Linked DNA regions of Homo sapiens. The protein of the gene in region 2 interacts with the protein of the main gene of each other region in a pairwise test. Each region holds a gene or a part of one and is shown on either strand. Other genes may lie near its edges.

Evidence for each region.
Region 1: the proteins of TXNDC9 (region 2) and CCDC172 interact in binary tests that used the Homo sapiens proteins (3 or more experiments, as listed by UniProt).

The regions. Positions count from the first base shown.
Region 1 is NC_000010.11:116,335,581-116,351,847, reverse strand, and holds part of CCDC172 (coiled-coil domain-containing protein 172), read right to left. Parts: intron 11,115-16,267; coding exon 10,998-11,114; intron 9,813-10,997; coding exon 9,647-9,812; intron 1-9,646.
Region 2 is NC_000002.12:99,314,106-99,330,372, forward strand, and holds the end of TXNDC9 (thioredoxin domain-containing protein 9), read right to left. Parts: intron 13,549-16,267; coding exon 13,430-13,548; intron 8,105-13,429; coding exon 7,850-8,104; intron 7,679-7,849; exon of another isoform or gene 7,021-7,678; intron 5,695-7,020; coding exon 5,577-5,694; 3' UTR 4,877-5,576; downstream 1-4,876. UniProt on the Homo sapiens protein: Significantly diminishes the chaperonin TCP1 complex ATPase activity, thus negatively impacts protein folding, including that of actin or tubulin.

The DNA.
Region 1 (16,267 bases), on a different chromosome or scaffold from region 2:
GACCATTTTGCATTGCTTAAGTTCCTCCTCCCAGTGCTACTATCCAAAAACTATATCCAGTGAGAAGGCTTGGGCAATTAGGGCTTACCTCATTTGTTTCCCTTCTCTCAGGGATCGTGGTCCTGTACTCTCTTGTCCTCAATATCTAAAAGTAGTTTCTCATATAATTTTCTCCAGTCTTTTAGTTGTGATAGAAGGGAAAATTCCATAAAATTATTCCTCATGACGATACGTAAAAGTTCTCCACATAATATTTAAATTATCCTTTTACTTGTCTCTCTTCCACATTAGATCACAAGCTCCTTGAAAACAGGAACTATGCCTCATTCATCTTTAAATCCCAATTTCTGAACAGTGCCTGGTGTAGTATATACAGTAGATGCTCAAGAAAGCATGTTGAACAAAACTAAAATAAATCATATAATTGACTTTAAATATTTTTGATTATTCACAATGTTTCTGTCCACTAGTGTAGGTAACTGAAAGTGGACAATTCAATGAAAAGAAAATACGTTCATGTTTATCCTTCTGCTCCCTTAATAAACAAAAGTTTAAAATATAAATATAACTACATATTAATATTCAATAGAGGGAATCCAGGATACCATAACACAATATTCAACAGATTAAAAAAGATACAATATTTTATTCATTATTAATTGATTTATCAGACATTCTATCACAAGAAAATCTTTGTAAAACTTAGGCAAGAATGATGGAGAAATACTGGATTTAAGTATTTCTGAAATATATCTTTCTTAATCCTGACACTTTAGCCTAAATGAAAAAGGTAAGTCTAAAGATTAATCCTTTAAAGAAAAAAATAAAACAAATATGCCAATTTCTTATCAGGCTTATAGAACAGAAAAAAGTAAACACTGTGTTTGTGGTGATAACTTTTTTTCCTACTTGTTTATTGCCTCACTATTATTTTATTGTTATTTTTATTTACAGCTTTATTTAGGTATAATTGATGTGGCAATCACTTTTTAATTTCTTCCACGGCCTAAAACCCACAATGTTCTAATCAACAGCTAGCTTTTATGGTTATGAATATTAAACCAACTAAGACAATCAAAATTAATTTACATCTTTTAACATGTGAATTGTCTTCCTCATATGTACATTGCCAATCATTAAAGGATATTGCCAAGCAAAGAAAAGTGTCATATATTGCTTATCTCACATCTAAGAAAAATGAATTCAACAACTCGGAGAAATGAGTAAGAGGAACATTTTGAGAAAAACATTATGACAACCATTATTTTGAAGCCAAAAGTGATGAACTGTTTTATCTATGAATTACCAAATGTTTAAAATAAATATTCATTTTACAAACAGATATATTGAATATCAATTATTCCACATTTCTAGTTTCTCAGGCCAAAAACCTTAAAGTCAACCTTAACACTTATTTCTCTCATATTCCACATCAAGTCCATCTTGAAATCCTCCTTGCTACCTTCAAAACATATTTAGAACCTGAATACCACTTACCACTTCTATGCTGCATCCCTGATCCAACTGCTCATCATCTCTCATCTGGATTACAGCCACTGTCTTCTAGGTTTCCGTTTCTGCTTTTACCTCCCTTAACTGTGTTCTCAATAGCAGTCAAAGTAATCCTATTCAAATGTGAGACCCTTCGCTCTTTTGCTTAAGTCCTCCAATGGCTTCTCATCTCACTTCAGTAAAAGTCTTTAGAATGACCCACAAGGTTTTAAATCTGGATTCCTGTCACCTCTCTGATCTCATGACCTCTCCTTTAACTCTAAATGCCTTAGGCTCTGCTCTTTCTCAAAAAATGATTAGGCACAATCTCCCTTCAGGTGATTTGCATCAGCTATTCCTTCTCTGTGAAATGATATTCCCCCAGGTATTCACTTGTTTGATTCCCTTACCTCTTTCAGGTCTTATTCAAAACTCGCCTTATTAATGAGGCTTTCCCTGGACATCTATGTAAAACTGTACCACACACCCCACTGCAACCCCACCCCTTATCTATCTATCCCTCTTCCCTCCCTTATTTTTCTCCACTCCCTCCCTCTCTCATACTGGAATGTAGGCTCCATGGGGGCAGGGATTTTTTTCTTCTTTTCTTGGTCACTACAGTAACACCAGGTCCTATAACAATGCCTGATACACAAAAAGTGCACAAGTATTACTGAATGAGTGAACAAACTAAGCACATTTCAGAAATACATTTGTAAGCAAATGTAGTTCCTCTCTCTGTGAAAATTTATACTTTAGTGGAAGAAACAGACAGGAATCAAATAATCATACAAGTGTGTAATTACAATGCTTTGAAGAAAAAGCACAGAGGGCAATGAGAGAATATAACCAGAAGAGCTGACCTAATATGGAATTGGGAGGGTGGAGTATCACAGAAGGATTTCCTGAAGATGTAACATTTGAGCTGAGATCAGAAGAATGAAAAAGTTAACTAGATCACCAGTCCCCAACCTTTTTTGGCACCAGGGACTGTTTTTGTGGAAGACAATTTTTCCATGGACCACGGGAGGGAGAGGAGTGGCTTCAGGATGGTTCAATTGCATTACATTTATTGTGCACTTTATTTCTATTTTTATTACATTGTTATCTATAATGAAATAATCACACAACTCACCATAATGTAGAATCAGTGGGATCCCTGAGCTTGTTTTCCTGCAACAAGACCGTCCCATCTGGGGGTGACGGGAGACAGTGGCAAATCATCAGCCATTAGATTCTCATAAGGAGCATGCAATCTACATCCCTCACATGCACAGTTCACGAGAGGGTTTATGTTCGAGAATCTAATAACTGCTGCTGATCTGATAGGAGGCAGAGCTCAGGTGGTAATGTGAGTGATGGGGAGTTGCTGTAAATACAGATGAAGCTTTGCTCACTCACCCGCCACTCACCTCCTGCTATGTGGCTTACTTCTTAACAGGCCACGGACCAGTACTGGCCCAGGGGTTGGGGACCCACAAACTAGATAAAGGATTAAAAAAGTATTCCAAATAGAACACAGTCAACGGTCCTGAGGCAGGAGGAAGCAGGGTACAATCTAGGAACACAAAAGAGGGCAGCATGCCTTTAGCACAAAGAAGCTGCTGGGTGAGGCTGGAAGGTGGAGAGGCACTAGATGCTGCAGGGATGGCAAAACAGGTTGGAAAGCTTGGTTTGCCATATTTAAACAGAACATAACCTAAGAGGCTTAATACAATAGTACAGTATTAATAATATCTTTTTTAAAAATGGATGTTCACATTTTGGCAATCTCAAGGAGTAAGAATAGGCTCCAATCCTGTGGTTAAAAAATAATAAATCAAAGATAATATCTGGCAGTGGGAAAAAAACACTGAGTAGCAGAAAATAGTATAAATATAAAAATAGCTATGAAGTTAAAAATGGAGATTATTCAAAACCCAATGAAACTGGCTGACTAATCATAGTTATGGGCTAAAAGCTCAGTGGGCAAGGTCAGAATGAAGGAAGAAAGAGGAGAAAAGTCAAATGCCAGAAAATAACAGATGTGGTGGCACGAATTAGAAGTGGGAATGGAAGAGCAAACACTGACAGGTAAGAAGACAAATGGAAGCTAAACTGCTCTGGGAAGTCAACAGCTCTAATATCTGCTTAAAATTTGAACAACTTCTTTCTCCACCACCACCACCACCAAGAAGAGTTGCCACAAACCGTTTCATAGGTTAATTCTTTTGAACCCTGAAGGAATAGATAATTATAGTACGTACATTTTTCCAAGCAGAGAAAGAAAAAAGCGTCAGTATGCTTTTTGTGAAATCAACATAATACACACACAAAGATGAATCTCACATATACTGATGCAAAAATCTTAAAGAAGATGTTATCAAATAAAATTCAGTAATACATTAGAAGACTAAGAGTGCACAGCTAAGTAAGGTTAGTGATAGGATATATATAAATAAAATTTATTACATCAATAGATTACAGTTGGAAATATGAATGTCTCAAAAAGGAGATGTAGTGGGAGGGAGGGAAGAATGGTGGAGGATGCAACTAAACATAGAAAACCCAGTGAAATCAAGTTGTATCAGCTTCAACTAATGACAATTTTGTCTTTGTTTTCCAATATTTACTGTGTTTCTAATTTTACTGGCTGATACTTTTAGAACACTGTTATATAATAGTGATGATATTGGATACCCTCCCTTATTACTAACTTTTATGGAAATACTTCTAGAGTTTCATTGTTAATCATGATGTCAGAGTGAAGCTCTCCCTCTCCTTCTTCCTCTCCTTTCACCTCTCCTCCACCATTTTTCCCTCCTTCCCTCTACATCGCCTTTTTAAAAACAATCATATGCTTTTCCAACTGTAATCTATTAATGTAATGAATTTTATTAATAGATATCCCATTTCTGCTCTTCCTTCTGCTCAACTCCTTACAATTTGGCTTTTGCCCTGCTTATTACCTCAATCTGCTCCCTTTCCTGAAGGCCACCAATGACCTCTGATTGCTGCTTCTTAGTCCTTATTCTAGTTGACAGCTCAGCAGCAATCAACATGGGTTGATCATGCCTTCAAATACTCTCTCCCTAGGTGATGTCAACTCCACTCAGTAACGTGTTCTGCCCATCTTTCATGAAGCCGTCTTAGACTCTTCACTCAAGTTTTTGAAAATCCTGAGGTTCTGCAGGGTACTGTCCATTTTCTTTCAATACATTCTCTCTAGGTGAGTCCCAAAATTTAATAGCTCTAGCCCAGAACTATCTCTGAGCTCTTGACTTAAATTACAACTATCTAATTGACATCTACACTCAAATCTCTCACTTGGCTAATCAGTATCATTCTTCAGACCTCACTCTGAAGGCAACTTGTTCAGGGAAATCTTCCTTAACTTCCTAGTCCAGTTTAAGTCTACTTATATATGTTCTCATATCATCTTGTGCTTCTCCTTTTGAAGCAGTCATCAATTTATTATTATCTCATTCATACTGTTGGGGCCAGCACATTAATCAAAATAAAGTCCCTGCTATTAAAAAGATTAAAGTTTTATATGAAAATGTTATGAAATACCTAGAAACAGACTTTCTGAAAGAATAAAAAATCAACAATATCAGGTACTCTGAAAACAAATCTTTTAAAATAAATCCATATTTCTAGAAAAAGAGAACTAAACTAGAGGGCTCCAATAGCATCTGTGATATCAGGGACTTTTTTTTTTCTTAATTTTAAAGAGGAATAATTTACATAAAGTATATTCATTTAGAGCATACAATTTCATGACTTTTGACAGTCACTGACACCTATGAAACACCCACAGGCAAGAAACTGTACATTTCTATCAACCCAAAAGATTATTTGTGACCCTTCACAGTTCATTCATTTTGACCCAGGCAACCATTGATCTGCTTGCCATGGCTTTACGTTAGTTTGCATGTGTCTAGCTTCTTTTAATCATCATATTATTTTGAAATAGGTCCATGTAGTGCATCAGTAGAATTAGTCATTTTTATTGCCAAGTATTCCGTTGCATAGATATGTCAATTTTGTTTAACCATTTACTTCCTTTTTTTTTTTTTTTTTTTTGAGACGAAGTCTCACTCTGTCACCCAGGCTGGAGTGCAATGGCGCGATCTTGGCTCACTGCAACCTCCGCCTCCTGGGTTCAAGCCATTCTTCTGCCTCAGCCTCCTGAGTAGCTGGGATTACAGGTGCCCGACACCACGCCCGGCTAATTTTTTGGTTTTAGTAGAGACGGGGTTTCACTATGTTGGCCAGGCTGGTCTTGAACTCCTGACCTTGTGATCCGCCCACCTCGGCCTCCGAAACCATTCACTTCTTAACGGACATTTAAGTTATGTTCAATTTTTGACTACTGTGAATAAAACTGCCAAAACGTTAGGATATAGGTTTCATCTCTCTGGAGTATCTCATTGTGGAGTGGCTGGGCTGTATGGTAAATGTACATTTAGCTTGTTAAGAAACTGCAAAACAATTTTCTAAAGTGATTGTACCATTAATTTTACATTCCCATCACTACCATATGAGTATCAGATGCTCCACATTCTCAGCAACGTTTGGTATGGTCAGTCTTTTTAACTTTAATTAAGTGGATATACAGTGATATATCACTGCCGTTTTAATTTGTATTTTCCAAATGACTAAAGATATTGAGTATCTTTTCACATGTTCATTGGCCATTAGTACTCTATTGTGAAGTTCAACTTTTTTCCCTTTTATAATTGGCTTTTTGCCTTTCTTATTTTTTAAGTTGTTAGAGTTCATTATGTTCTGGATAACAGTACATTGGAAGATATATTTAATGCAAATATTCTCTCCAAGACTGTTGTCTGTCTTCTAATTTTCTTAAGTGTCTTTTCAATTTATTTTAAATCTGTTTTTCTTTTTACGGTTCATGATTCTTGTGTCCCATCTAAGAAATCATTGCCTATTCCAAGATGGAAAAGATTTTCTCCTATGTTTTCTTCTAGGAAATTCATAATTTTAGCTTTTGTGTCTAGGTGTATGCCTATTTTGAGTTAATTTATAATACGGTGTGAAGAGTTAAGGATCATTGTTTTGCAATGGATGTCCAATTCTTCTAGCACCACTTATTGAAAATACTTTCCTTTTCCCACTGAACTGCCTTTCCATCTTTGTTGAAAACCAGTTGACAATATGCATTTCTATTTCTGGACTCTTCTGTTCCAGCTATTTATATGCCTATTTTTAAGGCAGTGACACATTATCTTGATTACTATAGAATTTGAGTAAATTTTGAAATCACAGAATATAAATCCTTAAATTTTATTCTTTTTAAAATTGTTTTGATTTTGTAAGTCATTTGTATTTCCATATACAAAGGCATTGTTCTCATAGAAGATGATAGCTCCATGTCCCTGAAGACCTTCCAGTGGGACAAGATGTAGAGGTGGAAGACAGTGATATTGTGATACTGACTCTGTGTAAGCCTAATGTGCATGTTTGTGTTTTAGGTTTTTTTTTTTTTTTTTAGTTTCAAGTAAAAAAATAATTTCTAAGATAGAAGAAAGTTGTAGAATAAGGATACAAAGAAAAAAATTTTTTGTATATTCATACAACATGTGTTTTAAACTAAGTGTTATTAGAAGAGTCAAAAATAATAAAAGGTTTATAAAGTAAAAAAGTTACAGTAAGCTGAAGTTAATGTTAATTTACTTTGGAAGAAAAATTCTTTTTACAAACTTAGTGTAGCCTAAATACACAGTGTTTATAAAGTTTACAGTAGCATACAGTAATGTTCTAGGCCTCCACATTCACACACCATTCACTCACTGACTCGCCCAGAGCAACTTCCAGCTCTACAAGCTCCATTCATGGTAAATACCCTATAAAGGTGCCCTATAGAGATTTTTAAAATCATTTATACTGTATTTTTGCTGTACCTTTTCTAGATTTATATATGTTTAGGTAGACAAATACTTGCCATTGTGTTCCAACTGCCTACAGTCTTCAGTATAGTAACATTGAGTACAGGCTTACAGCCTAGGAGCAATAGGCTATACCATATAGCCCAGGTGTGTAATAGGTTATCCCATCCAGGTTTGTGTAAGTACAATCTATGATGTTCACACGATGATACTGACTAAGAATGCATTTCTCAGAACATATCCCCATTATTAAAGTGATGCATGATTGCAAATGGATTCAAGTGTATCATTTTATTATTAGTTTTCTGTCTGTTCTGTGTTTTTGTTCCCCTCTTTCCCTTTCCCACTTTCTTTCAGATTAAATGTGTATTTTAATTTCTATATTGTCCTTTTAGCTATTTGTTTTTGGATTATTTCCTTAATGGTTGTTCTGGAATTAAAATAAACAACTTTGGTAGCCTTACTACAAGATGCCCTCCCTGTCTTCATTCTCACCACTAAGAAATGTCTTGAGGGTAAAGAAAAAAATCCAATATTCTTAAGAAATCATAAAGACTAAATCTAGCATGTGAATTAAAAAGCCTTTCCTAAAACCTCAGAAAAATCCAAGGTGATGCCTCAGAGAACCATTCAGTCAAAGTATAGGGCCAAGAAGTTTAAGAATATTGTCTCAGTAGTTTTAGCAAAAGGCCAAAGTATAAAAGGGCTTATCTCAAAGAAATTTGTAGTTGTGGCTTTTCCCTAATGAAGTGAGCCTCAGTAGGATTCACGTGAGACCCACAAAGTTTTTAAGAGCACTGTATTTACATGAACACAGTGAGCTTGGACTGAAATGGACAGAGGCAGTAAAAAAAAGGAATGATACGCAACTTTTACAGAATGGAAGCAGGCACAGGACAATTGCAAATGCAAGCTATCTTTTATATATATTTTTTTAAAAAAAAAAAAAAAAACGAATGATCAGAGAAGGGAAATAGGAGCACAGAGAGTAGTGTCAAGAGTCATGGGGAATCATTCCCAGGAGGGAGGATGACTGAGTCCTAATCAAGGAATGTCCAATACTTGCCTGGCTCAATTTCAGAATTGCTATATAACAATGACTCCAGTTTTTCTGCTTTCTGAACAGAAGTATCACTAGTGATTATCCTATGCCTATCTCACCATAGTATATTGGGAATATGAAGGGCAACTGTTTCTTTGGCTGAGGTCTTCAGATCAAGAGGACATGTACTCAAGGAGTTACATAAGCAACTACATCCAAGGAGCCTCATGTGCAATTGAACCTAGTTTAGATGAGGAAATACTGGACATTAAGCTAATGCTATAATAGAATCTCTGAAGTTTGAAAACTGATTTATCCTTGACTTTCCCTACTTGGCAACTGCTTTAATTCAGGATCTTATCAAAGATTGCAATAACCCACATACTAGTTGTATTAGTCCATTCTTGCACTACTATAAAGAACTACCCGAGACTGGGTAATTTATTAAAAAAGAAGAAGAAGAAGAAGAGAGATTTACTTAGCTCATGGTTCTGGAAGCTATAGAGGGAGCATGGCTGGGGAGGCCTCAGAAAACTTAAAATCGTGGTGGAAGGCAGAGGGGAAGCAGGAACATCTTACATGGCCAGAGCAGGAAGAACAGAGAGAAGCAGGAGGTGCTACATACTTTTAAACAACCAAATCTCATGATAACTCACTCAATGTCATGAGAATAGCACCAAAGGGGAAACCTGCCCCCATGAGCCAATCACCTCCCACCAGGCCCAACCTCCAACATTAAGGATTACAATTTGACACGACATTTGCATGGGGACACAGACCCAAACCTTCACTAGTGTTCCTGAAATAAAACTCTCTCCACTCCACTGTGTAAACTTATTCCTAGCTTCTCCTGGATTGTTAGAGGATTAGGGCACCAATCCTAACCCCTACTGTAGCTTCCATCACAATGTGCTGTAAATGTCTGCTTACATATTTTCTTCCTCCACTTTTTATTGTTATATCTTCAAGACCTAGAACAGTGCCTATCACATAACAGATATTTATTTATTAAATGAATGACCAAATGTTCATGTCACATGTACTTCTAAATCATTTGAAACTGCTCACAATAGAAGATACATCTTCATTAAATCAATAAAAGTAAAAGAATCGCTATGCAATAACCCAATTTGCTCATGAAAAAGTTAAATTTTTGGAAAATTCATTCATTCAAAATAAGTTATTTTCATTAATGCAAGACAAATGAGGTGATATTTATTCATACCACTTTTCAACATGTTTGCTTGGTTTTCTAAGTCAGATATTTCAATCTTGACATTTTCTTTCATCAAAAGCTCTCTTTTCTTTGTTATTTCATAATCATTATTAAAGTCTGTAATTTCCTTAATAAATTTGTCTTCCTCCTCTATCATTTGTTTCTTTATAGCCTCCTGAAAAACATAAATAAAAGATCAAATATAGGTGTTAGTTGCAATAATATTTTTCCTTAATTATTTAAAATATAATAATTTGGAATTATTAACAATGAAAGTATATAGTTACACTTCCTGGTTTTATGGCAAAAATGTTTTTTTCTCATAGTAATATTAATAAAAAACTGAAGCTATTATATAGTAACAACTATCTTCAGATGAAAGATTTAATCTTAAAGTTTTGGGAGAATTATTGAGGTAGATATTCTACCACTCATCATTATATCTGTTTATTTGTGTATTAAAATTCAGAATCATATTACATTTTATAATTATAATATAAAACTGGAGAGTAAAGTAATTAAATGGCCAAACTGAAAAACTAAAATTTACACTTAAAGGGATTACTGCCTTACAGGAAAACAAACAAACAAACAAGGATAGCCAAGAAAACCTTTTAAAATGTGGATGATGAAATCAAAATTATATATTCACTTCAAAATCAGTTTTAAATAATAGTTTACATTTTATGAAGTATCAACATGGCAGAGAAATAAGAATTTCCAAAAACTGTGGACAATGCAAAAACCTAAACTCTTTGACAATGCTAGAATATAAACATTACCATATTTTTCTAAGCTATGTCAATGAATTTTAAGCCTCATTTTCAAACTGGCCACGTCATTTCAAACCACCAAGTGTGTTGGTTCTGACTTCAGATATGTATTTTTAATATCTTTAAATGTATTTTCTTTAAAATGTCAATCACAAGTCATATTTCTAAATTGGCCCTGTCATTCAAAACTATTGCTCAGGCTGTTGGCTCTGAGTTAACAGAAAAAGATTAACAATATCCATCCTTTTAGCCACATCCATAAATATGCCTAAAGTGTGAAACTTTCTGCCTTTCAAAACGATTTTATCCAAGGTCTCAATGCTTGAGCAATTCAAATCAGTTCCACTGTTTCTTTTGTGCTTATTACAACTGAAAATAATTGCTATATTACATCCCTGCCCATATACTTCTTTCAAACTGTATTACTCTACCAATTGGTTTTAAATAGCACTTAATACTTTCCTGTATCTGAGCAGTACTACCTGCTAATATGCACATGGATAATTTTCTAAAAGTATACTTAAGTATATTTGAATACTTTTTTACATATTAGTGAAATAGATTTTTCTAGGTGGCTGGAAACTTACAAAGGTTTGAAGAAGCATATTCCTATGGTTTGTAATTTCACTGTACTGTTTTTCTAAAGCATTTTCATGAGCTTTCAAAAGCTGTAAGAAGAAGGATTTTTCAAAAAACTGTTGAACCTTCAAAGTACAAAAACAGAAATCAGAATAAAACAATTAATTAGACATTTTAGAGTACCTTAGGTAACAGAGAAGATTTGTCTAGTATAAAATATATTCTGTATTAATCTTTAAAATGCAAAATAAAATTAGCATCAAACATCTTATTTTATATACACTATCTTGTATTATTTTTTAAGTACTTTATAGTTACAATTTTATAATCTCTTCCCCTAATAAGACTATAGGCTCCTCAAGGGCAGAGAATGTGCTTTCTTTTTCCTCTCAATACCTAGAAGAATTCTTAGCTAGGTACTAACGCTTTTTGAATACACACATTGAAATCTGCTTTAAGACTGTTTGTTTTTAGATAATAAGTTTCTATTTTCACAGTTTATAAGGAATATATGAATGAATAAATCATGTACATAATATAACTAATAAAATAATAAGATAAAATCTGCAAAGCAGAGGCAAAAACCCAGTCCCATGATTATAGTTATATCAAATAAAAAACGAGTCTGCTAAAGACCTTAAATGGGTTTTGAGAACTCATTTTTTATTTTAATACTTCATTTGGTTCTAAGTAGCAAAAGGTATAATAAACATTAATGTTAGACATGCAACTGTTATTTCATTTGGAACTTAAAAAATAACATCTCCTGAGATGAATATTGAAATGAAGTTAGGAAGCTTTAATATATGAAAGCTAAAAATGATGCTGGACTGGAAATACTGTAATTTTTCTACTATGTTCAGTACTAGCCCTCATAAGAAAGCATCGTTTCCAGTTTGGGGCTGTTCCCATCTCCACAGGGAAAAGAAAAAGGATATAAATTCAACTTAAATTGCAGAAAGCAAGATTTATGGTAGTTATAAGAACTTCCTCAAGGTGAGAGACAGGTTGTGAAATCTCTGTCCCAGACAATATTGAATAGTAAAGAGCTTAGAAATAGTCTAGTCCAGAGGCAAAAGGGTTGGCTTAAGAGACAGTTTGAAATATTATGGCTAAAATGTCCTAGAAATATTGACATTAAAAAAGTTGCTCAAATTTTCAAAACCAGAAAATATGATCTTACATTTATATAAGATCGTAGCCCATCTGCCCATATCTTCAGTACTTGGTACTGTTTTCATCAACCCAATTTTAAGAAAGGCATCAATAGAGAAAGATTAGAGAGGTACAATTCACATAATCAAAGGAACTGAGATAATATTTTAGAGATTGGGGGAAGGAATAATAGGGTGGTTAGTATTTTTCTGTCTCAGAAGACAGAAATTAGAAAACATATGGCCAAATCTATAAAATCATATAGAAATTTATAACAAGGGGAAACTAGGGTATGATCATGAAATCTACCACATTTATTCAGAATAAAAAATATTTTGTGACTATTTAATGCTTATTATGTAAATGATAATAAAATGAGGTCCAGAGAAGTTAAACACCTTAACAAAGGCTATATAACTAATTAGAGGCAAATCCAGGACTAAAATTCAGGTCTTCTGCCTTTCTTTCTTCTAAATCATGATGTGAGCATGGAAATGTCAGAACTATTTCAAAGTAATGAAAAGATAATTCTAGAGCTAAAAAGAGACTTTGAGGTGTGATGGTGAGTTGAAAATATATAAGGTTAATAAACATTTAAGGAAATTACCAAATCCTAGATCCACCAGAGCTTACTGAGAAGGGTGTTTGCAGTATATACCTAACTCTGAGTTACTGCTGTGGACACTGCCCAGGAATGTCCACAAAAAATGCTTTAGAGACCAAATAATGCACTGGATAAATGTGGGTTTAATCTACTAAGGTATTTCAAGTATTATGCCCTTCAGAAACGCAATTCATGAATTCTAAGTCCATGTATACCACTGATCTGTTGTAAAAGATCTATGTCAAACCCAAAACTCAAAAATGAGGAAAATATTACTTATCAAACTAACGGATTTCTAAATGAGACTTAAGCAAATCTATTATTCAAATTCAGGAAAGCCTTATGTTAAGGACTCAGAAATTAAGGTGCTATCTTTCAGCTATCAATGACTAAGAGCTTAAATTACCACTGAGCCCACGTCTTCTTTCTTAAAAGGGAGAATAACCAATATTAAGAAGAGCTAGGTGACATATTGGCACTTAACCAGAATATTTCACCATTACCTAAAAAATGAAATCTATATCCCAAAAACTAAAAAGTAGACAGCTGTTCTAAAGATTTATAAAAAGGGCATATCCATAATTTTCCTCTTCCCTAAAATTTTATGTAAATCATCCATTTTAAGTTCTCTGCTTCTTTGTTTTTATTTTTATTATTAGTTTATCTCCTCTTCATTCCCTTTCTGTCTTACCTTCTGTCTTTATTGTTTACTTCCATATTTGTCTCTTTTAATCCAGATCTAAAGAGTCCCAGAGAGTCAATAACTACAGAAAGATTACGGTACATTAATCTTCAAATTTACATAGGATCTATGGTTAAAAAATGTTAATACAAAAGTCTTGGTAAGTATGAGAAGTAGAATGACGGAGAAAGCGGCAGGAGTTTGGGAAAGTTAAAGTCAGGAAGGACAAGAATAGAGGCCTATAATATACTGCTTCACATTGTTAAGGACATCAACAGATCAAGGTTGCAGAAGCTAGATGAGGCCTATTATTATTAATATATTGCCTTCATATTTTAGTGGAACTAAGGAAACAAAAACTTTTGAATCTGCCCAGTTCCTCGTTGTTAAGTTACTAACTCTTCAGAAATAAAATAGCTTTTCACAGTCTCCTATTCGTAGAATGTTTCAGATGGTTCCTTTTGTTCTTACTGTTGTCCCAACTGATTTCTTAAGTTATTTTTTATGTTCCTGCATTTGACAACTAAATCTACTGATATGTAAAATTTAAGTAAATATTCGAAATATAACCCTGAATGTATTGATAGGATCAAAAGATGAATAAATAATCATCAGAAAATCTTCTCACCTCTTTTTTGTTACAAAGGTGGAGATCAGAGTTGGGAAGATAATACATAAAATGTTAGAGTGTGACATAAAAATATTTCTAAATATATCGGGTCAGGTTTGAACTGAGGCAATATTTTATATCTATGTAGCTTGAACATTTATTTTATAGTAAACAAAAACTTAAAAATCCATTGCTTCTGTGTCCTAAGTTATCCACTAAGATCCCAAAAGAATACAGACAATATGAAGAAAAGGGTGGGAAGTTCCTAATGGCAGTGATAAAATTTTCTCTTTTTCATTTCTATCTGTCCTCCTACTAGAAATGAAAAAATATATTTGCACACAGCCTTAAAGTGATAGGCCAGGCACAGTGGCTCACACCTGTAATCCCAGCACTTTGGGAGGCCGAGACGGGTGGATCACCTGGTCAGGAGTTTGAGACCAGCCTGGCCAACATGGTGAAATCCCCCTCTACTAAAAATACAAGAATCAGCCAGGTGTGGTGGGGGCACCCGTAATCCCAGCTACTCAGGAGGCTAAGGCAGAATAATTTCTTGAATCCGGGAGGCAGAGGTTGCAGTGAGCCAAGATTGTGCCACTGCACTCCAGCCTGGGTGACGAGAGTGAAACTCTTGTTTAAAAAAAAAAAAAAATCTAGAATCACATAGCCAAGCTTTGTCAGAAAATACTGCTGTTTTGGAAAATTCTAATTTATAGTAGTGCCAACTCCCTGGTTAATTCTGCTTCTCTCAGCAATAAAGACTGTTTTTCCTTTCCTTGTTTTATTCCTCTTGGGATATTTGATTTTTTAATGGAGCTTATAGTTTTCCCAGTGAGCTGACTTATCTGGTCAACTAGGTCAGTTTTCAGCAAAGCCATGATTTGTGACTTTTCACTACTCTTGCTGCCTGGGTGCCTTTAGGTATTTTTCTGCCAGAAGAACTTAAAAATTGAAAATGACTGAGGATTTAAAATTAATGTTAGGGTCCAAGCAAGCAAAGTACATAGGTCCTCTTTGTTGTGGTTGCTGTTGTTAAAAATAATCTCGGCCTTGAGGAACTGACATTTTGCTGATTAAATAATCTGCCCCATAGCATAATAGGCAATTTTACATTTAAAAAAAAAACTAAGAGTTACGTAGAAAATTTCACATACCTAAAACCATAACAATTGGGAAAAATATATCATTATTATGACTATATGATAAAAGACATTCTAAATACTAAGGTACATTAATGAATATTGTATTGATAGCAGATATTAAGGTTTTTGTAAAAAAGATCTATCTTTATACTTTTCCAAATCACAGAGGCAATGCTTAAAGAATAACTTACTATGACATAATAATCCTAATATAGTTAGCAAGGAAGGAAATAACCTCCTGACAATGGCTTATAAGGCTTTACATGATTTTCACCCCCACTCCCTCTCCAGCCATCTCTCCTATCAGTCACCTCCTCACTTGCCCCATTCCAGCCACAGTGGCCTTATTATTATTACGTATGTATCATATGTAATATATATAATATATAATATCACATATAATATATACTACATACTATTATATATAATATAAAATATAATACATGTATAATATAATATAATATTTATACATATTAAATATACATTTTTGTTGTTGTTGAAATGGAGTCTTACTCTTGTCGCCCAGGCTGAAGTGCAGTGGCATGATCTTGGCTCACTGCAACCTCCGCCTCGCGGATTCAAGCAATTCTCCTGCCTCAGCCTCCCGGGTAGCTGGGATTACAGGGGCACACCATCATGCCTGGCTAATTTTTGTATTTTTAGTAGAGACAGGGTTTCGCCATGTTGGCCAGGCTGGTCTCAAACTCCTGACCTCAGATGATCCACCCCCCTTGGCCTCTCAAAGTGCTGGGAATACAGATGTGAGCCACCGCACCTGGCCCCATTATTATATATGAATCCAAGAAAATATACAGAGAAACCATCAAGAAATAAAAAAAAGGGTTTAGTAAAGAAGCTAGTAACAAAATAAATACCAAAATCTATTCTAGTTACCAACAAAAACAGAAAAAAGCATGGAAAATATCCCATTCGTGACAGCAAAATCAAGACAAACAAAATACAAATAAGAAATATCTGAGACCTGTATGAAAAACTTCTACTGAGGAACATACAAGAAAATCTGAATAAACAGAAAAAGATGTTATATTCTTAAGTGTGACTCAGAGTTATAAAGACATCAATTC
Region 2 (16,267 bases):
CGGAATTTCTCTCTGGATGATGCTTGATGACCTTCACATGGCCTCTTAGTCTTTTTTTCAATTTACCTCCTTTGCAGCCTTTAAAACTGTGAATCAAGTCTTCCTGTTTCAAATCTCCTTCCTTAGTTTTCATGAATCTACACTGTCCTTCCTCTGTAAATGCTTCTTTGGCCCTCCATATCCTTGGGTTCTGCATCTGTGGATTCAACCAACAGCAGATGGAAAATATTCCAGAAAAGGAAAAATATCTGGCTTTGTCTGTACCTATTAGGTGTAGACTTTTTTTGTTGTCATTATTGTCTAATCAATACAGTATAACAACTATTTATATAGCATTTACAATGTGTTAGGTATTATACATAATCTGGAGAGGTTTTAAAGTGTACAGGAGAATATGTGGCAGGTTACATGCAAATACTACACCTTTTTTTTTTTTTTTTTTTGAGACAGAGTCTCACTCTGTCACCCAGGCTGGAGTGCAGTGGCGCGATCTTGGCTCACTGCAACCTCCACCTCCTGGGTTCATGCAACTCTCCCATCTCAGCCTCCTGAGTAGCTGGTACTACAGGCGCATGCCACCACGCCCAGCTAATTTTTGTGTTTTTAGTAGAGACGGGGTTTCACCATGTTGTCTGCCTTTTTTATTATAATCATCCTGGCTGGTGCAAAGTGGGATGTCATTGTGGTTTGGATTTACATTTCCCTGACAGTTAATGATTTGAGCATCTTTTCATGTACTTACTGCCCAACTGTCCATTTCTTTTGGGAAGACGTACAGATCCTTTACTCATTTTTTTTTTTTTTTTTTGAGACGGACTCTCACTCTGTCGCCCAGGCTGCAGTGCAGTGGCATGATCTCGGCTCACTGCAAGCTCCACCTCCCGGGTTCATGCCATTCTCCTGCCTCAGCCTCCCGAGTAGCTGGGACTACAGGCGCCCACCACCACGCCTGGTTAATTTTTTTTTTTTTTTTTTGAGATAGAGTCTCACTCTGTCACCCAGGCTGGAGTGCAGTGGCGCGATCTTGGCTCACTGCAAGCTCTGCCTCCTGGGTTCATGCCATTCTCCTGCCGCAGTCTCCTGAGTAGCTGGGACTACAGGCGCATGCCACCATACCCGGCTAATTTTTTTTTTTATTTTTAGTAGAGACGGGGTTTCACCGTGTTAGCCAGGATGGTCTCGATCTCCTGACCTCGTGATCTGCCCGCCTTGGCCTCCCAAAGTGCTGGAATTACAGGCATGAGCCACCGCGCCCGGCCCCTTTACTCATTTTTTAAATTGGGTATTTATATTCTTTTTATTGGGTTGAAAGAATTCTCTACACATTCCGGATACATTTTATCAGATATATGATTTGCAAATATTTTTCCAATTCTGAGTTGTTATTCTAATCTGTTGGTATCAATTGCAGCAAGTGTTTTTATATTTGGTGTTCATCTATTTTTCTTTTGTGACTTGTCACATCAACAAGGCTTTGTGTAACCCAAAGTCGTGAAGATTTACCCTTAGATATTCCTCTTAGAGTTTTATAGTTTTAATTCTTATATTTAGGTGTTTGTTACATTTCGAGTTTAACTTTTGTATATCGCATAAAGGAGGGGTCAATATTTACTTGTCCCAAAACCATTTGTTGAAGAGACTATTCTTTCCCATTTGAATTGTCTTGGAACTTTTGCCAAACATCAACTGACTACAAAACACAAGGGTTTATTTCTGGACTTTTATTTCGCTTATCTTTATGCCTGTCTTATAATTGTAGTTTTGCCCTAAGTTTTGATATCCGAGTGAGTACTCCAAATATGTTATTTATCAAGATTATTTTGGCTACTCTGGGTCCACATAAATTTTAAGATCAACTTGTCAATTTTTGCAAAAAGGTATCTGGGAGTGGAGGTTTTTGTTTTTTTGAATTTGTTGAATTTGCAGATTAACTTGGCAGGGGCAGTATTACAATCTTAAGACTTAGTATCAAGTCCTCTGACTCATAAAATAAAGCTTTGCATTTCTTTTTCTTTTTTTTTTTTTTTTGTTTTAAACTTAAGAACACTGAAAAATGAAAAAACAAAAACAAAAACAAAAAACAAAATAGAGACAAGGTCTTGTTCTGTTGCCCATGCTGGAGTATAGTGGTGCAATCATAGCTCACTGTAGCCTCAAACTCCTGGGCTCAAGTGATCCTCTTGCCTCAGCCTCTCAAGTAGTTATGAGGTGGATGCCACCACACCTGGCTAATTTTTAAAAATTTTTTGTAGAGATGGGGTCTCACTATATTGCCCAGGCTGGTTTTGAACTCCTGGCCTCAAGCACTCCTGCCTCAAGCTCCAAAGCGCTGGGATTACAGGAGTGAGCCACAGCATTGGGCCAATGGGTTTTCTTATACACAATGAGTAGTTTTTTTTTCTGTTTTCAAGATTTTTTTCTTTCATTGTTTTCACTATAGTTTTGGTATGCATCTTTCTATGTTATCTTACAACTTGATCTTGGATTAATGTTTTCATCAAATATTTGATTTTCAGGCATCATTTCTTCCAATAATTTGCTGATTCTTTCTACTGTGAACACAATCTACTGTAGAGCTCCTCTAATGAATTTTTCATTACAGTTACTTTACTTTTGAACTCTAGAATTTCTATTTGGCCCTTTTATTTATTTTATTTTATATATTTTTTGAGATGGAGTCTCACTCTGTCGCCCAGGCTGGAGTGCAGTGGCGCAATCTCGGCTCACTGCAAGCTCCGCCTCCCGGGTTCACGCCATTCTCCTGCCTCAGCCTCCCCAGTAGGTGGGACTACAGGCGCCCGCCACCACGCCCGGCTAATTTTTTGTATTTTTAGTAGAGACGGGGTTTCACGGTGTTAGCCAGGACGGTCTCGATCTCCCGACCTCGTGATCCGCCCGCCTTGGCCTCCCAAAGTGCTGGGATTACAGGCGTGAGCTACCGCGCCCAGCCTATTTGGCCCTTTTAAATTCCTTTCTTTGTTGATATTCTGTTTGATGGAATATTGTAAGCATACCTTCCTTTACTTCCAGCAGTTTCCTTTAGTTTTTTTTGGAACACACTTATAATAATGCTTTGAAGTTTTTATCTGCTTCCAACCTATTGACCCTCTCAGTTTCCTTTGATTGCTTTTTCGCTCCTTGTATGGATTAGTTTCCTGTTCTTCTGTATGTCTTGTAGTTTGTTGTTGAGGACTGGATATTTTAGACACTGTGTCACAGCAGCTCTGGATAGTAATTTCCCTCCAACCCCTACCCTCTGCCCTCCAGCGCATTTCTTCTTGTTTAGTTTCTTGGCTGGATGATTTCAGTTAAGTCCACTTACCCTGAAGTATGCAGGCTCTGATGTCCCTCCTCAGAGTACAGTCTGGGCGTGTGCAGTCACCATGACTACTCCCTCTAGCCCCAAGGACAGTGGTTTTGATAGGGCTCTCTTTTACCTTTTCCTGATCTTTCGGGAAAGGTTCTAGTTAGTTAGAACCTCTTTTGTTATCACATCCTACTATTAGCACCCACTAATTTACTAGCTAACCACTCATTTTTTTTTTCATTTTTTATAGAGACAGGGTCTCACTATGTTGCCGAGGCTGGTCTTGTACTCCTGGCTTCAAGTGGTCCTCCCGCCTCCGCATCCCAAAGTACTGGTATTACAGGCATGAGCCACCACACCTGGCCACTCTTTTGTTTCTGACAATGCTCTGGGGCACAAGTCGCCGCAGTTTAATCCAGTTAAATTCAGGCCCCTGTAGAGTATCTTTGAGGCTTGTCTTAAACCTAGGACTAATAACAGCTGCCTCTATTTTTTTGAGACAGGGTCTCACTCCGTCACCCAGGCTGGGGTGGAGTGGTGTGATCTTGGCCCACTACAACCTCTGCCTCTCGCGTTCAAGCGATTCCCATGACTCAGCCTCCTGAATAGCTGGAATTACAGGCACGTGCCATGATGCCTGGCTAATTTTTAAACTTTTAGTAGAGACAGGGTTTCAGCATGTTGGCCAGGCTGGTCTTGAACTCCTAACCTCAAGTGATCTGCCCGCCTTGGCCTCCCCAAGTGCTGGGATTACAGGTGTGAGCCACCGTGCCAGGCTCTTTCTGTTGAGCTTGTTGGCATTCCCTTTTGCTTGTTGCCATCAGGGAGCTGTCAATACGCTCTTAATTGCTCCCCTCCCCAGATCCAACGTATTTGGTGGCACCTTTACACTTCAACATCTTCCCTCATTCTATTCTAGTCAGTCCCTTTATTAAATATTTTTAGTAGAGACGGGGTTTCACCAAGTTAGCGAGAATGGTCTTGATCTCTTGACCTTGTGATCCACCCACCTCGGCCTCCCAAAGTGCTGGGATTATAGGCGTGAGGCACCGTGCCCGGCCCAGAGCTGTTTTTATGACTTGCCATTTCCACTGGACAGAACCTCTGTTCTGCTGCTCCAGAGCTACGGGTGGGGACAGTGGCCTGCTTTTCTAGGAGTTATACTCACAGTCTACAAGGGGGAAAGGGGTGATATAACCCCTGGTCTCCTCCAAGTGCATCTCCTTGCATGGAACCTTCACTCTACGTACGAGTAAAGAGCCTTCATCCTATGAGTAAGCTGGGGCAAAAGCAACTAAGGCCCAGTATTCTCAGTCTGATATTCCTGGGTTAGAGTTTCTGTGCTGTAAGTGGGGACTAGGTGGAGGAAGGAGTGCCAAACCTCTTGGCTACTCTTGCTTGCAAAAGGGCTTCTGCAACACAGAGCTTCAGGGAATGAGGCATGCTAATAATCTACTCTTCCAGAGGAGAAACTGTAGTCCAGGATTGGGAACTGGAGAGAGGGAATGGGGTCATGGCTCCAATGCCACAGACTCCCTATTCTAAAAGATTGACTTTCTTGAAAAACTGTTTTTGTTGGATGTATGCTTTTATGACAATTTCCACATAAACTTCCAGTTACAGGTATTTTATTGAGCAGAGACAGTGAAGTTCCTTATGCTGTTATTTCAAAAGTGTTTCCTGGTTTCTTTTTAATGAATGTCTTAAAATACAAGCAATCAGGACCCTTTAAATAAGGCAGTATGTTCACAAATCAAAATAGCTTTCTGCTGGCATCAGTTGATTCAACATCAACATGCAGTGTCCAGAATGAATAAGCAGTTCTTTAATGGTTATTTAAATATATTCCAGAAGAGCGTTTATAATTCATTTACAAGTGCAGTATTGCGCTAGTAAATGTTACTTGACCTCTTGTATAAATAATGCCGATTAAGAATTAGTCCTGGAATAGTTTTCGAATTTCTAACTCTGTAGATCTAAAACACAATTGTAAATGGTATAAAGATGTAAGAATCATATTGTGATAAAGTCAATCTCAAAAATAGAGAATCCAGACCCTTCCCAGATAATTTAAGAACTGAGTTTTCCTCAACTTAAACATGATGGCCACACAGAAAACAGTAAAGACACTTTTCGATGTGATACAACTGTATAAAACTCGAGAATATGAGTATTTAGGTGACCAATGTATAGACATTAATAGAATTTTAAAAACACATTTAAATCTGAAGCAGAAAAAAAAAGACAATTTACAAAGAATTATTGAGCTCTAATCATCATCAGAGTCTGAATCATATTTCTTTCCTCGGATAGTTTTCTTTTCCAGCTTTGTGAAGTTTGTTCCAAATTTCTTTTGGTTCTGAAATGGTGGCTCCATTAAATTTCCACTTAAAAAAAAAAAAAAGCATTTTATTCTTTATGATTTAGTACTAGTATACTAAACTGCACAAAAATCTATCTTTGTTTTCTTCCTGTAACATAGAATAAAATTTCTTTAAAATGCTGGTGTCAGGGAAGAGGTATAATGCTTATATTGATATTGATGGTTAATAGCCTTAAACCTTATTGTGTCCTACTGAATGTTTTAGATCAATTTTATTTTCCTTTCTTTTTGAGACAGGGTCTCACTCTGTGGCCCAGGCTGATGTGCAGTGGTGTGATCACAGCTCACTGCAACCTCCAGTTCCTGGGCTCAAGCGATCCTCCCACCTCAGCCTCCCGAGTAGCTTGGACTACAGGCGTGTGCCACCATGCTCAGTTAATTTTTACATTTTTTGTAGTGATGACATCTCACTACATTGCCCAGGCTTGTCTTGAACTCTTAGGCTCAAGCAATCCTCCTGCTTTGGCATCCCAAAGTGCTGGGATTATAGGTATGAGCCACTGCACCAGACCTATTTTCCTTTTTATCATTAATTATGGATTAACATTTGGTTAACACAGTGCTCAGTTGTCACCGGAAATGAGAGAAACCATCACACACCTCCCGATATGATGCATCACTTCCATAATATGCCCGTCAAAAATCGATAATCTGAATCTAATCTTGAGGAAATTTAAGACAAACCCAAACTGGGAGATGTTCTCCAAAATAAACAGTTTGTACTCTTCAAAAACATCAGTCTTAAGAACCAAAGAATAACAATGGTAACTAAAGACGTAATAACTAAATGTGCTGCATTTTTGGTATGAAGGACAATTATTGGGACAATGAGAAAACTTGAAATAAGAGCGGTAAATTACACAATAATTCCTGTTTCAATAATTGTACTGTCGCTACGTAAGAAAATGTTCTTGTTCTTAGAAAATATATATGGAAGTCTTTAGGAGTAAAGGGACACTGTATTCACAATTTCCACTCAAATGGTTCCCAAAATACTTCATAGTATCTATAAAGACAATGATAAAACAAATATAAAATGTTTAAAATTGGGTAATATGGGCAAAGGGTCAATGAGGATTCGTTGTACTAGTCTGCAGGGGGTTGTTTCTACTAGTTTTTTGTAGAGACGAGGTCTCATCTCACTATATGTTGCCCAAATTGGTCTCAAACTCCTGGCCTCAACTGATTCTCCCACCTCAGCCTCTCAAAGTCTGTAATCTTCTGAGATTACACAAGTGCCCCACCCGGCTGCAATTTGTTTAAGGCTTAAAATTACTTCAAAATATATAACTTTATTTAATAAATATTAATATTTTATGTTAATATTAAGGAAATGAAACCAATTTCTACAACATAGGAATGATTTCGGCATGTCTAGGAGAGTCAGAGAAAAGACGGGAGGGAAATGGGGGAGAAAGAAAAACGTGAGAGAACCTTCTACTTCCTGAAAGGCACCATGACTCTGGAATGGTAAGTGCACAATTTTACCTGTTACTTTTGCAAATCAAGAAAAGGCAAAAAAGACAAGATGATATGCTCTGATTTGTGGAATTAGATAAATTATTTGTCTGAAGAAGTGGACAAAGAAATGGAAGTTGGATTTTAGATTGTTTTCAAACTAAAACTGTTCTTCATAGCAAGCAATGTAAGCTAGGCATAGAAACCTTTTTCTATTCATCAGCCTCTATAAGTAAAACAGAAATATCCATGTTAAAAATCTAGTATTTTAAAATATAACTTTCTTTGCAAGAGTCTGCTTTTAATTTTTATTTTATCAAAGAGAATCACTTAAGTCAGAATTCATTTGAGCAATCTGGCTTAAATTGGGGAATAGTCAACACTGGATTGCCATTTTAAGTTTCCAGATTAATACAAAATTAGTGTCAATAGTATACGTTAAGCTGAAAACTTTTATAGTCAGGAGTACGGTGAGACTCAGTTTTACCTATTAAATCAGTTTAATCTGTAAATCTGATTTTGCCGTAAAATCACGCTAATATTACACACTTCAAAAAAACATGCTTTTCCTTTGAGAAACTTTCCACATCTCAGCCAAAATGCCTTAATTTCATAAAATAAATGTTACAATACAAAAATCTTTTGTAAAAATATCAACTATATATGAATTAAAATCAATCTCTTCTTTTGTTAAAAGTTACCTGTAATTAAGAATGTCAGAAGAACCGAGCCTCCATTCTAAAGTTTCTGTGGTGAAGTCATCTGTATTTCCTAGGTCAGTAAACCCAACAACATAATCTTGTGTTTTCCCATCTTTTAGCAGTGCTAGTGTGGGAATGACTTTGATATGCAGTCTCTCACAAAGGAAAGGTGCTTTTTCCACATTCAGCTTCAAAAATTTGGTCTCGAGGTGTTTCTTGGACAATATTGCCAGATGTCTGTCTAGTATTTTACACCTGTAAGTGACCACACATAGAAAATTATAAGCTAAAACCACAGATCGCTTTTTTCAAAATAAATATCATCAAGGGAAATCTAATTATGTAGTTTTTCTGTTGACTCTCATAACATGGCAGCCAACTTAAACTTGTGTCAGATGACCTCACTTCCAGATCAGAGGTTAGCTGCCTGATTACGAGATGGGAAAACAGCCTATAAGATTCTAGAAAGTCAGATTTGCATTAATGATATTCTCTTTTAAAATATTAAATATATGCTTTAAGTCATAAAGGAAGTTGTCCTATCTCCTACACAGGAAACTTGAAGAGGAACAAACTGAAACTTGACAAAACTCGGAAGAGACTTACAAGAATCAGAAGTGCACACATGGTGCCATATTTGGAAGTCATGAAGAAAAACTGAACAGCATTACCGAGGAAAAACTTCTTACTCCTAAATATGCAACGCTGTCAGTAAGAAGCACATTAAGGCTAAGGGTTACTAATAATATTTAAATAAATGTGGCCATTATGCTTCTAGGAAATTAAAAAATACCAGTAGTAACTTTTTTATTTTTTATTTTTTTGGAGGTGGCGTATTGCCCTGTCCCCCAGGCTGGAGTGCAGTGGCACAAGCTCGGCTCACTGCAAGCTCCGCCTCCCTGGTTCATGCCATTCTCCTGCCTCAGCCTCCCAAGTAGCTGGGACTACAGGCGCCTGCCACCATGCCCGGCTAATTTTTTGTATTTTTAGTAGAGACGGGGTTTCACTGTGTTAGCCAGGATGGTCTTGATCTCCTGACCTTGTGATCCGCCTGCCTCGGCCTCCCGAAGTGCTAGGATTACAAGCGTGAGCCACTGCACCCAGCCTACCAGTAGTAACTTTTATTAAGCCATCTTCCAATGAAGACGGAAACAGAAGTGAGATTTTCTTGGCCAGGTGCGGTGGCTCACATCTGTAATCTTGGCACTTTGGGAGGCTGAGGCAGGCGGATCACTTGAAGTCAGTAGTTTGAGACCAGCTTAGCCAACACGGTGAAACCCTGTCTCTACTAAAAATACAAAAATTAGCTGGGTGTGGTGGTGCATGCCTGTAGTCCCAGCTACTTGGGAGGCTGAGGCAGGAGAATCACTTGAACCTGGGAGGTGGAGGCTGCAGTGAGCCGAAACTGTGCCGTTGTACTCCAACCTGGGCAACATAGTGAGACTCCATCTCAACAAACAAAAAAAGTGACATCTTCTTTACATTAAAATTTATTTTCTGGCCTGATGCAGTGGCTCACGCCTGTAATCCCAACACTTTGGGAGGCTGAGGCGGGCAGATCACTTGAGGCCAAGAGTTCAAGACCAGCCTGGTCAATATGGTGAAACCCCATCTCTACTAAAAATACAAAAATTAGCTGGGCGTCATGATGGGCACCTGAAATCCCAGCTACACAGGAGGCTGAGGCACGAGAATCACTTGAACCTGGGAGGTGGGGGTTACAGTGAGCTAAGATTACACCACTGCACTCCAGGCTAGGCGACAGAGTAAGACTCTGTCTCAAAAAATTCATTTTCAACTGGCCAATTCACGAGTGTTTCTAAAACAGACTATTGTAACAATCTTTTAGACCGGTGGTTCTTAACCCCAGGTGTTCATTATGATCAACTTTTATTTATTCATCTTTTTTGAGTTGGACTCTCACTCTGTCACCCAGGCTGCAGTGCAGTGGCGCGATCTCGGCTCACTGTAATCTCTGCCTCCTGGGTTCAATCGATTCTCCTTCCTCAGCCTCCCGAGTAGCTGGGATTACAGGCACCTGCCACCACGCCCGGCTAATTTTTGTATTTTTAGTAGCGATGGGGTTTCACCATGTTGACTAGGCTGGTCTTGAACTGCTGACCTCAAGCAATCCACCTGCCTCAGCCTCCCAAAGTGCTGGGATTAGAGGTGTGAGCTACCACACCCAGCCTGCCGTCAACTTTTAAAATATCCAGATGAATCAAAATTCTCTGGCAGTGGAGTTGGGAAACATACAGCTGTTCTTATGCTCAAATAAAGCTTGAGAACTACCTCTAGATGACTCACACACAAAATACTTCATGGTTATTTTTACCAGTAAGCTTTTTGTGCACTTGATGTAGTTTTTCCTGAACTAAGTTTGGCTCTAACATAAGTTATGTGTAACCTTGGTGCCTCATCACTTTTTCCCCGGATATGTTTTTTCATATGTTACTCATGTAGTTCAGTAACGAGATTTCAGTGAAAAATGGTAAGAGAGAACAAATTAATAAATGGTTTTTAAATAAAGCTCAAAACAAATGATAAATCAACCTTTATATGAGAAATATGTTCCTGAAAATTTGTAAATAAATCAACTCCATACTTTAACTGCAGTAAGGAACGTATTTTTTTTTTGAGATGGAGTCTCGCTCTGTCGCCCAGGCTAGAGTGCAGTGGCACGACCTCTGCTCACTGCAACCTCCACCTCCTGGGTTCAAGCAATTCTCCTGGCTCAGCCTCCTAAGAAGCTAGGATTACAGGCACCCGCACCATTGCCTGGCTAATTTTAATTTGTATTTAAAGAGCAAGACAGAGTGTCTTGCTCTGTTGCCAGGCTGGAGTGCAGTGGCACGATCTCAGCTCAATGCAACCTCCGCCTCCCAGGTTCAAGCAATTCCCCTGCCTCAGCCTCCTGCACAACTGGGACTACAGGCACGAGCCACCATGCCCAGCTAACTTTTTGTATTTTAGTAGAGATGGGTTTTCACCATGTTGGCCAGGATGGCCTTGATCTCCTGACCTCATGATCCACCTGCCTCAGCCTCCCAAAGTACTGGGATTACAGGCATGAGCCATGGCGCCCAACCCGTCAATCAATTTTTAAAAATCCAAAACAACAGTCATGGTATAAATAGCTATAGGCCTTTACGTATGTTTAAAAATAACTAAAAGAGCATAATTAGATTGTTTATAACACAAAGGATAAAAGCTTGAGGTGATGGATATTCCATTTACCCTGATGTGATTATTAAACACTGCATGCCTGTGTTAAAATATCTCATGTACCCCATATTTACCTACTACTACCCACAAAAGTTAAAAATTAAAAAAATAGCAATAGGCTTAAAACATGGGTTCCAATCTCTCTCTTTTTTTTATCATTTAGTATCTGAGTGATACTAGGTGAGTCAATTTCTCCAAATCTTGGTTTCCATACATGAAATACAGGAATAATAATAAGTGCCTCTGAAGATTATTGTGAATGTTCTAGGGATAATATACATGAAAGCATCCTGCCTACTATGTGCTAGGAACTTTGCTAATATATAAAGTTCACTGGATGATTTTGATTTTTCAGTTCTGTTTGAAGGTGAGTACTCCTGGTGATGCACTGTTTATACACCATCAAATGTATTTATTGACCACCTACTATGCGTCAGGCAGTTGCTTTAGGGCTATGATCCCAGAGAACAGTAGGTCACAATACAGGCAAATGCGCTGCCTCTACAAAACGAACAATCTAGTTGGGAAAGACATAAAAAAAACAAGTGAGGCCGGGTGCCGTGGCTCATACTTGTAATCCCAACACTTTGGGAGGCCAAGGTGGGTGGTTCACCTGAGGTCAAGAGTTTGAGACCAGCCTGGCCAATCTGGAGAAACCCTGTCTCTACTAAAAAGACAAAAGTTAGCCGGGTGTAGTGGTGGGTGACTGTAGCCCTGGCTACTCGGGAGGCTGAGGCAGGAGAATCACTTGAACCCGGGAGGTGGAGGTTGGAGTGAGCCAAGATCCTGCCATTGCACTCTAGCCTGGGTGACAGTGTAAGACTCTGTCTCAAAAACAAAAAAAAACAACAAAAAAAAAACAAGTGGACAAATAATATTTTACATACTAGTATATTTATATATCACCTCATCATATTTGTCAGAGGTTGGCAACTTGAGGAATGTGTGCCAATGCGAGATGGTTGTGTACCATAAGGGCAGAGGTTTCTCTGATACCTTTCTACCTGCCTAATCCCTTCTCTCACTGTTCCTCACAAGGGATTTCACCATCTCAATATTTTGTTTCATTTTTATTCTCTTAGTCAATGAATACCAGGCAATCAATTCTTGAAAGGTGTTAACTAACAATGAAGCTGTTGGGTTGTGAGATCAAGACAAAGGGGCAAGAAGGCCACAGAAATGAGAAAGAGAGCAGGGCTGAAACCACAGTGAGTGCCAGAGACTCTAGAGCACAGTGCTTGTCTGTCCTGGGTAGGCAGGTGCCAGTCAGCAGATGACTGCCATCATAGTTCCAGCTATGCTATTAGCAAGTTTTCTGATTTTTTAAAGAAAAATTCTAAGTGTGGATATTTTCAAAAGGAGTTATCTCTCGATTTTTAAGTGTTGGCAACTAATCAAATCTGTGCACAAAAAACCACAAAGGCTTGGGTCCTTTGGTTTACGATGTGACCTCTTCTGAGGAGGTATTAACATTTTATAAGAGATCTGCTTCCTTAGAGAAATTTGGAGACCTAGGGTGGTCTAAGAAAAATCACTTCTCCTTCTAGCCAAGACTGGCAGTCCCAACTCTGCTCTGGTGAAAGGTTTGGCCAAGCCACCATCTCCCCACCACAGTTGCTAGTTCCTTCAAGGAGGAACTGAAGGAACACTGACTCTCAACAGCTGTTGCCCGTTCCCAATATCATGGCTACATCACAATACTAGAGGGAAATAATTACTGTCATGGTGATAAGAATTTTAAGTGTACATTTCTAAGATGTTTTTAGTTAGCTAGTGAAAATACAATTCAAAAATATAAGCCATTTATATGGGAATATTGACTTTCAGTAATATTCATTTATACTTTTGCATGTAACTGTTCTTTAAGTTACTCTTTAAAATAACAATTAACTTTTTTTTTCTTTCTTTTTTGAGATGGAGTCTCACTCTATCGCTCGAGCTGAAGTGCAGTGTCGCGATCTCCGCTCACTGCAACCTCTGTCTCCTGGGTTCAAGCAATTCTCCCACCTCAGCCTCCCCAGTAGCTGAGACTACAGGTACCTGCCACCACACCCGGCTAATTTTGTAGTTTTAGTAGAGGCAGGGTTTCGCCATGTTGGCCAGGCTGGTCTTGAACTCCTGACCTCAAGTGATCCACCCCCCACTTGGCCTCCCAAAGTGCTGAGATTGCAGGCTTGAGTCACTGGGCCCCTGCCTGCTTAACTTAATACTAAATAACATATGAGAGAGTACAATGAAACAACTTAGGAAGTTTTTTCTTTTAGTTTTCTTCATTTCTCTAGTAAGCCAGTATATCTCCAGCCAAACAATTCACTGTGTTTTTTTAGAAAAAGTCACAGATGGAAACAAAGTTACCTGAATGTGGAGTCTCTGTAGAAATGGCAAACCACATTTTCACTCTCCTTGACTTCTTGAAAAAAGTCTCTTTCACTAGGGATTTCTCTGTATTCCCCATGTCCTTTAGAAAGCCATTCCTAATTTGGAGAGAGGCAAAACATTACACATGTGAGATATCTCTTTCAGAACCACTTGACATTTTAAGTGTCCAAATCACCATCGTATTTTGTAATGAAGTCAATTAAAAAAAAAAGTTTTTTTTTTGTTTGTTTTTGTTTTTTTTTTTTGAGACGGAGTCTTGCTCTGTCACCAGGCTGGAGGGCAGTGGCGCGATCTTGGCTCACTGCAACCTCCGCCTCCTGGGTTCAAGCAATTCTCCTGCTTCAGCCTCCCGAGTAGCTGGGACTACAGGCGGGCACCAGTATGTCCAGCTACTTTTTGTATTTTTAGCAGAGATGGGTTTTCACCATGTTGGCCAGGATGGTCTCGATCTCTTGACCTTGTGATCCGCCTGCCTCGGCTTCCCAAAGTGCTGGGATTATAGGTGTGAGCCACCGCGCCCGGCCCAAAAGTGTTATTTATTTATTTTTTTTTTGAGAATGGGTCTTGCTAAAGTTGCCCAGGATGGAGTGTGGTGGCATGATCATAGCTCACTGCAGCCTCAAACCTCCTGGGCTCAAGAGATCCTCCTACGTCAGTCTCCCAAGGAATTGGGACCACTGGCGCATGCCACACCACGCCTGGCATTTTTTTTTTTTTTTTTTGGTAGAGACGGGGTTTTTACTATATCGCCCAGGCTGGTGTCAAACTCCTCGGTTCAAGCAATCCTCCCACCTTGTCCTCCAAAAGTGCTGGGGTTATAGGCATGAGCCACTGTGCCTGGCTGAAGTCAAAGAAAAATGAATGTTTTTTAGCAATTTACTTTCCTGTTTCTACTGTCAATGCAAAACTAGTCTACGGACAGTGAACGTCTCCACAGCATGGCCTGGGTTCAAGACAATTACCTGTCTTTGTAGCTTAAAACATCTATTTTCTCAGAACTTTCAAAATAAAAATTTAGACTTGAGAGACTCAGAATGTAAATATCCACTTAACTCTATCCATGTACTCTTAAACTACTAAAACCAGAAGCATTTGATCCAAGTTACTACAAGTCTTTTAAAAATAATGCTCATGAGGCTGGGTGCAGTGGCTGATGCCTGTAATCCCAGCACCTTGGGAGGCTGAGGCGGCTGGATCACCTGAGGTCAGGAGTTCCAGACTAGCCTCGCCAACATGGTGAAACCCCGTCTCTACTTAAAAAAAAAAAAAAAATACAAGAAATTACCTAGCTGTGGTGGTAGGCGCCTGTAATCCCAGCTACTTGGGAGGCTGAGGCAGGAGAATTGCTTGAACCCAGGAGGCAGAGGTTGCAGTGAGCTGAGATCACGCCACTGCCTGGGCAACAGAGTGAGACTCTGTCTCAAAAATAAATAAAAATAAAAATAATGCTTATGAGATAAACCCAATTCGTCTTGGGGAGAAAAGGAGGATACTGCAGCTCTGAAGCTCAAGAGCCCTGTCTGCTTTTGATAACCACTTTATAAATGCTTAAAAAGTCTCTATACCTGCACTAATTGTTAGAAAGGTCATCTCACACTGAACTGCAATATATCCATAATTCTGGTCTGTGGATTCCAGCTTGGATAAAGATTAAAGTTTTAATCTCTTTCCCACGTGGGCCCTTCAAACATCACATATTGCCTAAGTTTTCCCTTCTCCACACTGAACACTTCCAGTTCCTTTTAACTGTTCTCATATGAAAAGATTTCTAGAGTTCCTACTCTTCCAGGATATCAACTAAACACACTCTAATTCACCAATGTCTTCTTAAAATGTGACAGAGGTCTGAATCCAGCCTCCAGAAGGGGTCCAACCAAAGAGCCAGGAGGGCCATCTCCCTTCCTCCTCTGGACGTCAGTGAACGTGGCCCAGACTATATTGATGACTGCGGTGTCAAAATCACATCCATTTACATCGAGCTGACACTTGCAGGATACCCTGATATTTTCTTATGTGAAATTTCTACACACAGTTTAACTCTCAAATACAATTCCCTAATGACATATGACATTTCATGACTGCTTTCACAACTTACCAATGATATGTGCCCTTAAAAAGTATTTGTTAGGCTGGACGCAGTGGCTCACACCTGTAATCTCAGCACTTTGGGAGGCTGAGGCAGGTGGATCACTTGAGGACAGGAGTTTGAGAACAGCCTGGGCAACACGGCGAAACCCTGTCTCTACAAAAAATATGAAAATTAGCCAGGTGTGTTGGCACACACCTGTAATCCCAGCTCCTCGGGGGCTGAGGCACAATAATTGCTTGAACTCCGAAGGCGGAGGTTGCAGTGAGCCAAGATCACACCACTGCACTCCAGCCTGGGTGACAGAGCAAGACCCTGTCTCAAAAAAAAAAGTATTTGTCTTTTAAAAAGCTGCTATTTCTAGGCCGGGCGCAGTGGCTCACGCCTGTAATACTAGCACTTTGGGAGGCTGAGGTGGGCGGATCACCTGAGGTCAGGAGTTCAAGACCAGCCTGGCCAACATGGCGAAACCCCACCTCTACTAAAAATACAAAAATTAGCCGGGCATGGTGGCAGGCGTCTGTAATCCCAGCTACTTGGGAGGCTGAGGCAGAAGAATTGCTTGATCCTGGGAGGTGGAGGTTGCAGTGAGCCGAGATTGTGCCACTGCACTCCAGCCGGGGCAACAGAGCAAGACTCTTATCTCAAAAAAAAAAAAAAAAAAAAAAAAAAAAAGCTGCTATTTCTTTTCATTATTTATTCTCAGGTATTTAACCAAGAGGCTGAAG